3 linked regions of the Homo sapiens genome follow. The protein of the gene in region 1 purifies or fractionates together with the protein of each later gene. This does not show direct contact. Each region holds a gene or a part of one and is shown in the gene's direction. Other genes may lie near its edges.

Evidence for each region.
Region 2: the proteins of NMS (region 1) and FRAS1 purify together in Homo sapiens (affinity purification with mass spectrometry; one large-scale study listed by BioGRID and IntAct). This does not show direct contact.
Region 3: the proteins of NMS (region 1) and BTD purify together in Homo sapiens (affinity purification with mass spectrometry; one large-scale study listed by BioGRID and IntAct). This does not show direct contact.

Annotation. Positions count from the first base shown.
Region 1 is NC_000002.12:100,468,982-100,472,738, forward strand, and holds the start of NMS (neuromedin-S preproprotein), read left to right. Parts: upstream 1-1,500; 5' UTR 1,501-1,507; coding exon 1,508-1,583; intron 1,584-3,757. UniProt on the Homo sapiens protein: Implicated in the regulation of circadian rhythms through autocrine and/or paracrine actions.
Region 2 is NC_000004.12:78,063,683-78,067,339, forward strand, and holds part of FRAS1 (extracellular matrix organizing protein FRAS1 isoform 1 precursor), read left to right. Parts: intron 1-2,302; coding exon 2,303-2,334; intron 2,335-3,657. UniProt on the Homo sapiens protein: Involved in extracellular matrix organization. Required for the regulation of epidermal-basement membrane adhesion responsible for proper organogenesis during embryonic development. Involved in brain organization and function.
Region 3 is NC_000003.12:15,632,695-15,636,351, forward strand, and holds part of BTD (biotinidase isoform 1 precursor), read left to right. Parts: exon of another isoform or gene 1-172; intron 173-2,729; 5' UTR 2,730-2,745; coding exon 2,746-2,994; intron 2,995-3,657. UniProt on the Homo sapiens protein: Catalytic release of biotin from biocytin, the product of biotin-dependent carboxylases degradation.

The DNA of each region.
Region 1 (3,757 bases):
TAAAACAATTATATATTATGACTTAGGTAAAGTATTAACATGTTTGAGCCATGTGTAAACATCCAGCAGTTATTAGTAACCACCTAATCTCTAAAAGAGCAAAAATTAAAGACATGCGGCCAGGCGCAGTGGCTCACGCCTGTAATCCCAGCACTTTGGGAGGCTGAGGTGGGCAGATCACGAGGTCAGGAGTTTGAGACCAGCCTGACCAGCATGGTGAAAACTGGTCTCTACTAAAAATACAAAAATTAGCTGGGCGTGGTGGTGGGCGCCTGTAATCCCCGCTACTCAGGAGGCTGAGGCAGGAGAATCGCTTGAACTCAGGAGGCAGAGGTTGCAGTGAGCCAAGATCGCGCCACTGCAATCTAGTCTGAGTGACAGAGTGAGACTCTGTCTCAAAAAGAAAAAAAAAATAAAGATATGCATAATGAAAAAAACAAAAGATATTTGTTTCACGTATACTATGTATGTTGCCCTTTTTGCAAGAAATAGAAGACTTCAGTCTTTCTTCTTCTTTCTATCTGATGTCTAATCCCAAGGAAGCATGTTTAAAAAATTACTTATCAATTAAAATTCCATATTCTTACAGAAATGACTGGGCTCAGGTACCTTTGAGTCCAAATTTCTTCTCTGATCCTTGATAGCTGGATGACCTTGGACAAGTTTCTTCATCTTTCCTAGCCTCTGTTTCCTCATTCATAAAATTAGGGTAATAACACATTCCTAATAGATTTTCTGTGAGAATTACATGAAATAACCTATGTGAAATGCCTAAAACAGATCCCAACATGTAGAAGCTCAGTAGATGAAGTTATTTATTATTATTAAACATTGTCATGTTTTCCTGAATACTGACAATTTGAAATATTTAACTTGTTCCTTAAAATGAATCTGGAAAGACCTTAAAGAGGCTAATTTCCAGCCATGATCTAAAAAACAAACAGAGCCCCAATTGAACTTTAGATTTTTACAAATATTATACAGAAGACTCCAAATTTTGTCCTTCTTAAATGCACCAAGATAACACAACATCCTTTGTTAGAGGTGGAAAATAAACAGCTTCGTAGGAAACAAGACTTTATCAAGCAATAATTTAGAGATTTGTGTCCTTTTTTTATTTTATCTCTTTTATTAAAAAGAGAAAAAGCCATTCTTGATTCAGAAATATTTCTCAGATCATTATAGAATAACAATCAGGACTCTCCACCTTTTATTTTCATTGCTGGGTTGTAAAACATGGCTCTCTACAATGCCTACTCCAGAAAGATATTATTCTACAAATAAGGGCTCAGCATGACATTTATGAGAAAGCCGGGGTCCTCCTGTGCAAAGCTGATTGGTGATCAGCCAGTGGGTTCCGGGGCGCTGCAAATAAAGGCACTTTCTTCGCTGGGCTGATCAGATGCAGGACAGAGGGTTGCCTCTGCCTGTGGACCTTGGGGAAATGCGCGGCTCCTGTCCTAGCAGCACCTGTCTGTGGCCAGCAAGGAGAAACCAGACTCTCACAATGAAACATCTTCGTCCCCAGTTCCCTCTCATCTTGGCCATCTACTGCTTCTGCATGCTACAGATTCCCTCCTCAGGTAAGGGGAGCTTCCTCAGACTCCATCTGGCCTAAACTCTGAGGATGTCTGAGACAGACCTTGATCCCCCAGGGCAGCTCTGGAGGGAGTCAAGCTTTATTCTCCCCCGCCAGACCTTCTTGATTTCTGGCTGCAATTTGTTGGAACCTTTAGGAGAGGATCAAGAGAGCGAGATGCTGCAGCCTTTTACTAAAGGAGACTTTTCCCTGTGGGACTGTCTTTAAGCTGCTCCTGCCCTAGGGATGTCCTGAACATGTGTCGCTAAAACTGAAGGGAAAGGCACTTCCTGGTGTGAGTTAGGGGAAGATCCCACTTGTAGCCATTTCTGCTCCCTGGATTCTGAAGAGACGAGGACAGAGTTGGTAAAACTGAGCTTACAGCCCCAGAGAGTGGAAATTGATGGGCAGTTCGAGAAGGGCGCGGGAGGAGCGCACACTGGAAAAAGGAATCTTTCCCAAGCCTTTCCATTGGGTTTTAGAGAAGCAGGGTTCCAGAGTGTACCGGAAGCCGCTACCTCCCGGGGCCAGTGAGCTGTCCGAGGTGCTGACCGGGTGCGGGCATCGCCTCACCGACTCTGAGAACTAGCTTCTAGGGAACAGGGGTGGAGTGAGGGTCTGTGGTTGGAATCTGTTACCACCATCTTCATAGGATGCAGGGAAGTGGGCGGTGGCAGAACAACTACGGTTGGAAACACATACCATTTTACATTTTTCCATTAGAATTTTGACTTAGGGGAGTAGAAAATCTTTGGTAATATATTGACAGAGAAAACATATTTCAAACAATATGTTTGTTTGTCATGTCCTACAATGTAATCACAAAACTGGGCCTTGCAAAGGACCATGAAGGTCATCTGGTTTAACCTCTCACAGGGTGCAGGGATCCCTTCTGTAGCTTCCCGATTCTATTTAACTACTTCAATGACCCCAACTCACTGCCAGCTATGACAGCCAGGTTCTGCCTCTTTGCTCCAGTAGAGTCCTGTTTATATTACATTTTTGTAAATATGTTATTACCTTTTATGTATCTTTCTATATGTTTATACTCACCTCCCTATTTTTTCCTGTTTGACTTTATGTTCCCTGAGGGTAAGTCTTTACGTTTTATTAGCAAAGAACCTCTCCATAAATCCTTATAGGATTGGTTTGCATTACTTTGCATTATTGAATGATTCCAATCACCAAAAACTTCTTTAGGCTAAGCTTAAGTGTGATCACATGTAACTTTCTAACCGTCAGTCTTTATTCTGTTATTTGGGGGAAACACAGGATAAGACTAATATCTCTTACTTATTGAAGTTCTCAAAATAGTTGAAAGCAGTTAACATATACTTCCTAATTTTCCTGTTTCCAGAGAAAACTATGCTCAGTGCCTTTACCTCATATCTTATCATTTCAAGTCAGGCTATTATCTTTTAAGGTTTAGGCACTGTTATTTGAATATAACATAACATTGCCTTTGCTTTATCTTGGCTCAGAGAGAACGCAGGGAACAAAATACCATACAATTTTCTTTTGTCTTGTTTTTAAACATAAACTGCTCTTGAGCCATACATTCCCTGTTCCACACATTAAAAATCTAAGTGCCAGGTTTTATATTTATCCATCTAATTTCATCTTGTTAGTTTTGACCTATCCAATTGATTCTTTCGACTGCACTATAGCTATCCCACCAAGTGTTGTATCACAGGCAAGTGAGAAGAGGAGTTCATTGAAGTTAGACAAAAGGTTGACAGGGTCCAGCTGCATGCCAGCAGCCTTCCCCAGAGCCCATCCCTAGAGAGTCTGTAGCAGCAGAGAGACGGGTATCCATGTGTCTTCAAAGTTCAAAGGTGATTCTGATGTCCATCCTTTGTTGACACCATTTTCTGAGATGCCATCCTCATGAATTCTATCAAAATACAAACTAAGTTGTTACCTTGGATTTTTTTCCTCCTCTTTGCTGACTTGCTAATAGTTGTACTGAACACTCATGGTAAATTAACAACCATGCTATTTTAAATTAATCTTTGTATAAATCTCAGATTTGCTAGTGGCAAGTAGAAGTGTATTTTCTTTGTAAATCCTTTTAACAACATCAGATCAGATCTTACTTTCCCACTGACCTCTTTTGAATGGTTCTTTGGTGGTTTATTATTTTAACAGAATGTCTGTTTTTCATGATAAAGACTTTGA
Region 2 (3,657 bases), on another chromosome or scaffold:
TTCCAAAAATAGGTTTTGATATGGGTACTCAGATACTTCTTAAGGTGCTTGATTTCCTTTGGAGCTTTGAAAAGAAATTGACTTTGGAAGGTAATGCTGTGGAGAGCAATAAAATTATTTGAGGATAGTCTTATTTTAAAGATTAAATTTTGTTTGTGTTTTTTCTAAAAGTTAAGTTTTGTTTAATCTAAAGTTTAAATTTTGTTAAATTGTACCTAAGTGATGATGATCTTTATTCTAAATTTTCTAAACACCAGAAATAATTAAATATGTCCATATAAGTAATTTAGAAAGTGAATTGTGTTCATATGTATTTATTTGAGATATATAGAATTATTTTAGTACACACATCACACACATACATATGTACACATATATATATTTCCTTTCTTATAACATACCATAGACTGAACTACTAAGTCTTGGAACAAGATTTCTTAAGGAAAAAGTAGTCAATTAAGAAGAATTTTCCTTCAAGGTTTTATCTCAAGTTATTCTTATTAGAACTTAAAGAATAATAATAAAAATAAATAAATAAATAAAATAAAAAAATAGGGAGTGTCTATAAAATCATTCATTTATAGACACTCCCTATTCCTTTCTTTCATATGTATAGAAATAAATTCCTTTTTTCATATGTACAGAAATTTTAATAAATATTAATGCCATGGCTAGAAACTATTTTAAAGTAAAATAATAAGTTTGTGTAAAATATAAACTCAAAAATGACATATTTATATTAATTATCCTATGTCTGCAGAGGAAGAAATACAAACCATTAAAAGTTGGAAATGTCATTAGGAGAAAGGCACAAGGGTGTCATAAATTTATAATTTTTGCTTATACATATGCCTTGTACTTAGCTAATGTGATGCCTTCATATTCTGGGTGAATTATATTAAAACACCAATAAAATTGTTGTATACCAAGAAAAAAAAAAAGAATATCAGGGACATAAAAATTATTTCAATAAATTTGCCCACAGAGATCTTTGATTCAAACCTAAGTGTAAATAGTCATCTCAGTTTTTTTAAAGATTGTTCTTAATTCCATTACTGGAGGAGAAGGTAGACCAATTCTTTCCTGAGAAGTTAATATTATTGGGACTTCATAAATGATCCATTAGAGGTAAGCACTGTGGTAAAATAATGTCCTTCTCTCTTTAGAAACCAACTGTGTGGAGCATTGTTAAGATATGCTTCACCTTGGTGTGTATATACTGTTCAAATGTGTTTTGCAGACTCAGTTTCTGAGAGAGTAGGTGACAGCACACTGCCCATCTCTTTCTAAGTTAAATCAAGACCTGTTGTGCAGCTCAAAAATTGGTTGGGAATGTGTCTATATTTTTTTTAAGTTAAGATTTCAGTTTTATAGTGTATATATATATATATATATATATATACATACACACACACACACTAAATACTACATATGCTATTTATACTATATATTATATATATACTATATATAGTATATAGTGGGTATATATGTATATATATGTGTATATATGTGTATATACTATATATGTACTATATATGGTATATAGTATATAGTGGGTATACATGTGTATATATATGTATATACTATATATGTAATAGTATATATGTAATGGTATATATAGTGTATATATTCTCTCTATATGTAGTACACACACACATATATATAATGTAGTGGGGTAAATACAACATTTCAACATCCTTAGAAAGGAAATACACAAGAATAAATTCACAAATGGAGGATGTAGGCACAAAATGCTAGGAGCTCAGAGGAGCATAATCTGGTGGGCAGAAGTTTCACAAAGGAGATGGGATCAAGTTCAAAGAGCTTGACTAGACAAAGTACATCTCCTGTAGAAAATGAAAATGAGCAAAGGCATTGAGACATGTAAATATATTACAGGATTCTAAGTTGGCCTCTTGGGTTGGACTGGAGGCTTAGTGTAAGCAAACAGTGGCAGGGAAGCCTGGATAAGTAAATGGGACTGGATTATGGAGGCTTTGCTGACTTATCACCAAGAAAAATATTTACTGTATTTATAGCATGTCGTTATAAACACATTTATCTTAAAATTCAAGTCATAAGTTTTAATGATGCTTTTCCTCATGTGTGTCCAAGGAATGTTGTTTTGGTGTATGGGGTTATTTCCCCAGGGGAAGAATGCTGAAGCTTTTAAGATTTTGGAAGAAGCTCATTTTCCTGGTTATGATGCATATAGATGCAGTTTTAGCAGCAAGCTTGCTGGGGCAGTGCCTATTGGTTTATTATGCATCCCTTTTAATTCTTGTTTTGTTTTTCCCCACAGGTGCTTGTGTCTATCAGGATTCCTTGTTGGCGGTAGGTCATTCTTTACATACTTGGTTTCTGTCATTTGAATGTAAAATGCTTGATTGAAGTTCCTGAGTGAGTGAGTTGACCCTATCATTGTAGAATATGTTTATTTTTCTTCAACGTTTGACAATTAGCCCTCATTCGGGCACAATGATGCTCAATTATTTAATACCTTTTCCAGAGTGAATTAGTTCTATTCAGATACTCAGGTATTGGAAGAGAAATTCAAACACTCAACACACGATTTACATTCTGTGGCTGTTCTTTGTGTTCTTTTAATCAGAGAGAAAATTAGATCCCATCCTTTTGTCAGATACAAACTGAAACACAATTTTTTAACTTCTGGTTGCATTTGCTTCCCACTTTGAACCCTTCTCCAAAAAAAGTATGATTATTAAATTAAGTAGAATAGGAAGGATTTCTGTTGTTACTTTGAATTATAAACTTAAGTTTTGGTGAACAGCAAAGAAATTAACATTTATTTCTGAACTCTTGCCATATAGGGTAAAATTGATTTTGAATTTAATGTCAGAATGACTTGGGGGAAAGGCTGATGTAAGTCTCATGCATTTCTTTTCATTACTAATGCACTATGGTGCATAACAGTGTGTTAAAGCCTTATTGAAAAGACTGTCTACACTCCATCAACTCTAATAAATGGTGTGACAAATCATTCTTCACCATGTTTTTATTTTGGTTTAATAAATGCTATAATAAAACTGAACTGAGATGGTTGGAAAGAATTTGCTCATTTACATCACAACCTGCTATTGACATGTGTGATATTGATAAGTCATCCTGGATTATCCTTGTGGTATTGAAATAGCTGAGGAATATCTGAAGTATCTTAGAGTCTAGATAACTGTAGATATTCACCATAATATCCTTGAATCTGCACTTTATATACTGTAGTTACTGCTGGAGAAGTTTATTTTTTAAATATTTTTCTATCAAAAATTAGGAAAAAGCCATTTTTATTGTATTTGTCATTCCATATCCTGCCCTGTTTATTCTTTAATATATTTTAGGAATCATTTGCTCTAAAATATATTATCACTTTTGGGGAGCTACAGTAGATATTTAGACAAGTCAGTTATCCGTGCTAATAAAAGAGAATTATTTATTGTGTAGAGTACTTCATAACTTTTCCATATATTTTCATAAGTATTCATATGTCTGATACTTATAATAGACCAATGAAATAGGCAGGCCATGTATCATTCCATACTCTTTCCCCTTTTAATGGAAAAGATGAGAGAGAGAGATGAAGAGATTTGCTAGAGGTAATTCACCATTAGTGGTGGACCAGAACAAGACATCCTGTCTTCT
Region 3 (3,657 bases), on another chromosome or scaffold:
GCATAACCTCACGGGCCAGCACCTGGTAGCTGCTGGAAGGCTTCTGGGGGATGCCTGGGCCCCTCCAGCCCTACCTCTAGTCCTGCCACTTTACAACTGAGCACCTCCCGCTGCTGCCTGCTGAACCCTTCAGAGTCCTTGCCACAGGCCCTATTTACTTTTTCCTGAGAAGGTATGTGTGATGCCAAAGAGAGAAAAGCAGCATTTGCTAATTTGGGTAAAATGTTTCTTTGGGAAGGGCAAATTGATGTACAGTTGTCCCTCAGTATCTGTTGGGACTGGTTCCAGGACCCCGTGGATACCGAAACCCTCAGATGCTCAAGTCCCTTATATCAAATGGTGTAGAATTTACATGTAACCTAAACACTTCCTCCTGTACACTTTAAATCATCTCTAGATCCCTTACACTACCTAATACAAACTAAATGCTATATAAATAATTGTTATACTGTATTTTTTAAATTGCTATTATTTTTTATTGTTGTGCTATTATTTTTATTGGGCTCCCTCCTCCCCCTCCCACCCCAGTAATTTCAATCCAAGGTTGGTGGAATCCATGGATGCAGAAACAATGGATACTGAGGGCCGGCTGACTAGACCTATTTTTATTGTAATTACTCATTCTCTTCTACCTCATTAAGCTTGGTTCTTTCAAGCATGAATACCTGGTTGAATCTGCATAACCTCTTATTATCGACCTACCTTTGTTCACACACAAATGATTGCCACTTAGAGCTCTCCTACCGGGCTCCTTTTGTAAAATAAATTTTATCTTCTCCAGATAGAAAGAAATGTGATACCTTGCGGATTTTGCGGTTTCCTTGTTTTGCTGGATTGCAAGTCCTTTAGACATAAACAAATGTTCTGTACCCCGACATCGGTGGTACCCAGCTCTCAGTTGAGAAAGAGATGTAATGTGAATGCCACTCTTGGCCCCAGGCACTCCTCACTTGCCCCCACTGGGGACTGGTTCATACCCTCCTCTCCTGGCCTCAGTTTCCATACCTCTTAGTGAGGCCTTTGCGTTATACTTCAGAAATATTGTCAGTATGACTTTGAAGATGAAAGTTTGCCCCCAAAATCACTCTCTGTTATCATTGTGAAACCAGAGATGGAATGGAAAAATGGGTTTCTGAGACATTTTAAATTATTCCTTGCTTGTCTTTAGAGGCAAAATTCAGATAAGAAAGCTTATCAATTATACTTTTGTTTCTACTCAAAAACTCATGACTGCTCACTCAAAGACTCCTTGTTCTTATCTTAAAACATTGTTTACAGTGTCCCAGATGAATGGCAACAAATCCTGGGGTTTGGTGTTTGGATGGTACATTTCCCTGGGGAAAGAAATAACAGTTTGAGATGGAACCGGGTTGGGGTGGGAGAATACTTCTCATTCTGAGGAATATTTAATTTTGCCAAGATGAGCATTTCTAGTTCTTAGTCTGTTGACGAAAAGAGCTATGGTTTGTTTCTGGAACTTTTGATAAAAAATAAAGAAATTTGTAGCCTGGGGAGTTTGGTTTTAAAATGCAAACACAGGAGTTATGAGTTGAGACTTGGACAGGGTGTCATTTTCTTTTTAAAGGGCAGCAATATGATTCTTTGATTTGTCTTTGTTATCTTGACTTTTAATCCGGATTCCTGGGCAGTTGTTCAGCCCCAGGACATCTCCATGGGCAGGTGGCCTGGCCTTGGCACACTACCCAGTAAATCTCTGCCTGAGAGGACGCTTTAGCTGGGAGGCCAGGCTGATTTTTAAAGGCAGAATTGGACTATTTACTCTAAAACAGTAATGCACACTGTTTAGAAAGAAACATTCCTATTCTGGGAGGAAGGAGGAGACACACAGAAGTATCATTTATTTCTAGTCTTTTCTGGTAGAAGCTATGAAGCTGAGTTTACTCTCTGGAAATTTGTAGTTTATTTTCTAGAAAATTGCATTTTATCACTGCAAAAAGGATTTTATTTCCAAATGAGTAGGCTTTTGAGCAAGAGTTTTGGAGTCACAGAGATGGGGTTAAGAAAGTGATAATGTGCAATGGCGATTCTCAAGTTCAAGGAGAAAAAATAACATGCTTTTATTGGGATACTTTGCTTGTCTATAAAAGAAAGTAGCTATTGGCATTTATGTAGAAGTCAGCAGTTTCTTGGCACCAAATAAATAATTTTGTGCTGAATAAAGGGAGAGTTATCCATAGTATTTATTACTAACCAAAGAAATGCAGGGAGAATTGTAATTCATTAGGTTTTGATGGCCAGGAAAGCCAAGCTGTGTTATTAGGGTCATGACAATCACAGACATTACGGATGGCTGACCTGTAGTATGGATAGAGGGCAGAGGGTAGAGTGTGAAATATATCACAGAATTATGTCAAATAATCTGGATAGTTACTACTGCTTAAAATCTAAGTGCACAGCTAGAAAAGTGGGTAGTGACGCACTACAGTCTTGCTGAACACTGGGTAAGAAAATCATAGCAAACGTTGAGTCTGTTTTGGAAATGTTCTAAAACCAGACTATTAACACAGTGAGCCATTTTAAATGTGGCTTGCTACGTGTTTGGAGAGAAACACATACTCTTTTATTAGGAACATGAAACAAACTCTTTGAGCCGCAGTATCACTGCGAGTGAGTTTAATTGCTGGGATTAATAAATCACAGCTGCAAACGTTAAATTCTTGGCAGGATTCTTTATTCAGCTGTTTTCCCCTTGCCCCATTACATTCCAGATTTGTGGTCTGCATTATGTCTGGAGCCAGAAGTAAGCTTGCTCTTTTCCTCTGCGGCTGTTACGTGGTTGCCCTGGGAGCCCACACCGGGGAGGAGAGCGTGGCTGACCATCACGAGGCTGAATATTATGTGGCTGCCGTGTATGAGCATCCATCCATCCTGAGTCTGAACCCTCTGGCTCTCATCAGCCGCCAAGAGGCCTTGGAGCTCATGAACCAGAACCTTGACATCTATGAACAGCAAGTGATGACTGCAGCCCAAAAGGCAAGAATGCTCCTCGGAACCTGAGTTTCTCTCATACAGAGCAGATTGCTCTTTACCCCTTGATCAGTGGTTGGGTAATCCCAGGCTTCCTACCACCCTCTGAAAAAGCATCCAGGTAGTTAACCTGAGTTGAGTTAGTCAGTTGAATTAGGAGCCTTACCCCTCAGAGAGTGGTCCGTGGACCGGCATCCCCTGGGAGCTTGTTAGAAATACAAAATCTTGGGCGGCACCCCAGACCTACTGAATCAGAATGTGCATTGCAGCAGGATCCCCAGGTGATGCTTTCACATGGCAAGTATGAGAAGCCCAGGACTAGATCCCCAGTTCTCAAGTGTGGTTGTACATAAGAATCACGAGGTAAGTGGTAAACACTATGGCTGCCCGGGTCCTGGAGAGTCCGTTGTAATTGGTGTGGAAGGGGTGTGGACTGGCACTGGGATTGTTTTAAGGCTCCCCAGTGCAGTCTAATGTGCAGAAAAATTTGAAGATGACTGGGCGTGATGACCTCTCTGAGTCATTCGAAGCTTCACTGAAGTAGTAAGCATCTGCAAGAATGCCGTTTGCTCCCTTCAGACTGTTTGAGGCTCGTTTCCGGTCTCTATGTCGGACTACGATCAGTCTGAGACCTTCGCCCAGATAGAACTGACCCCAAACTGACAAAGG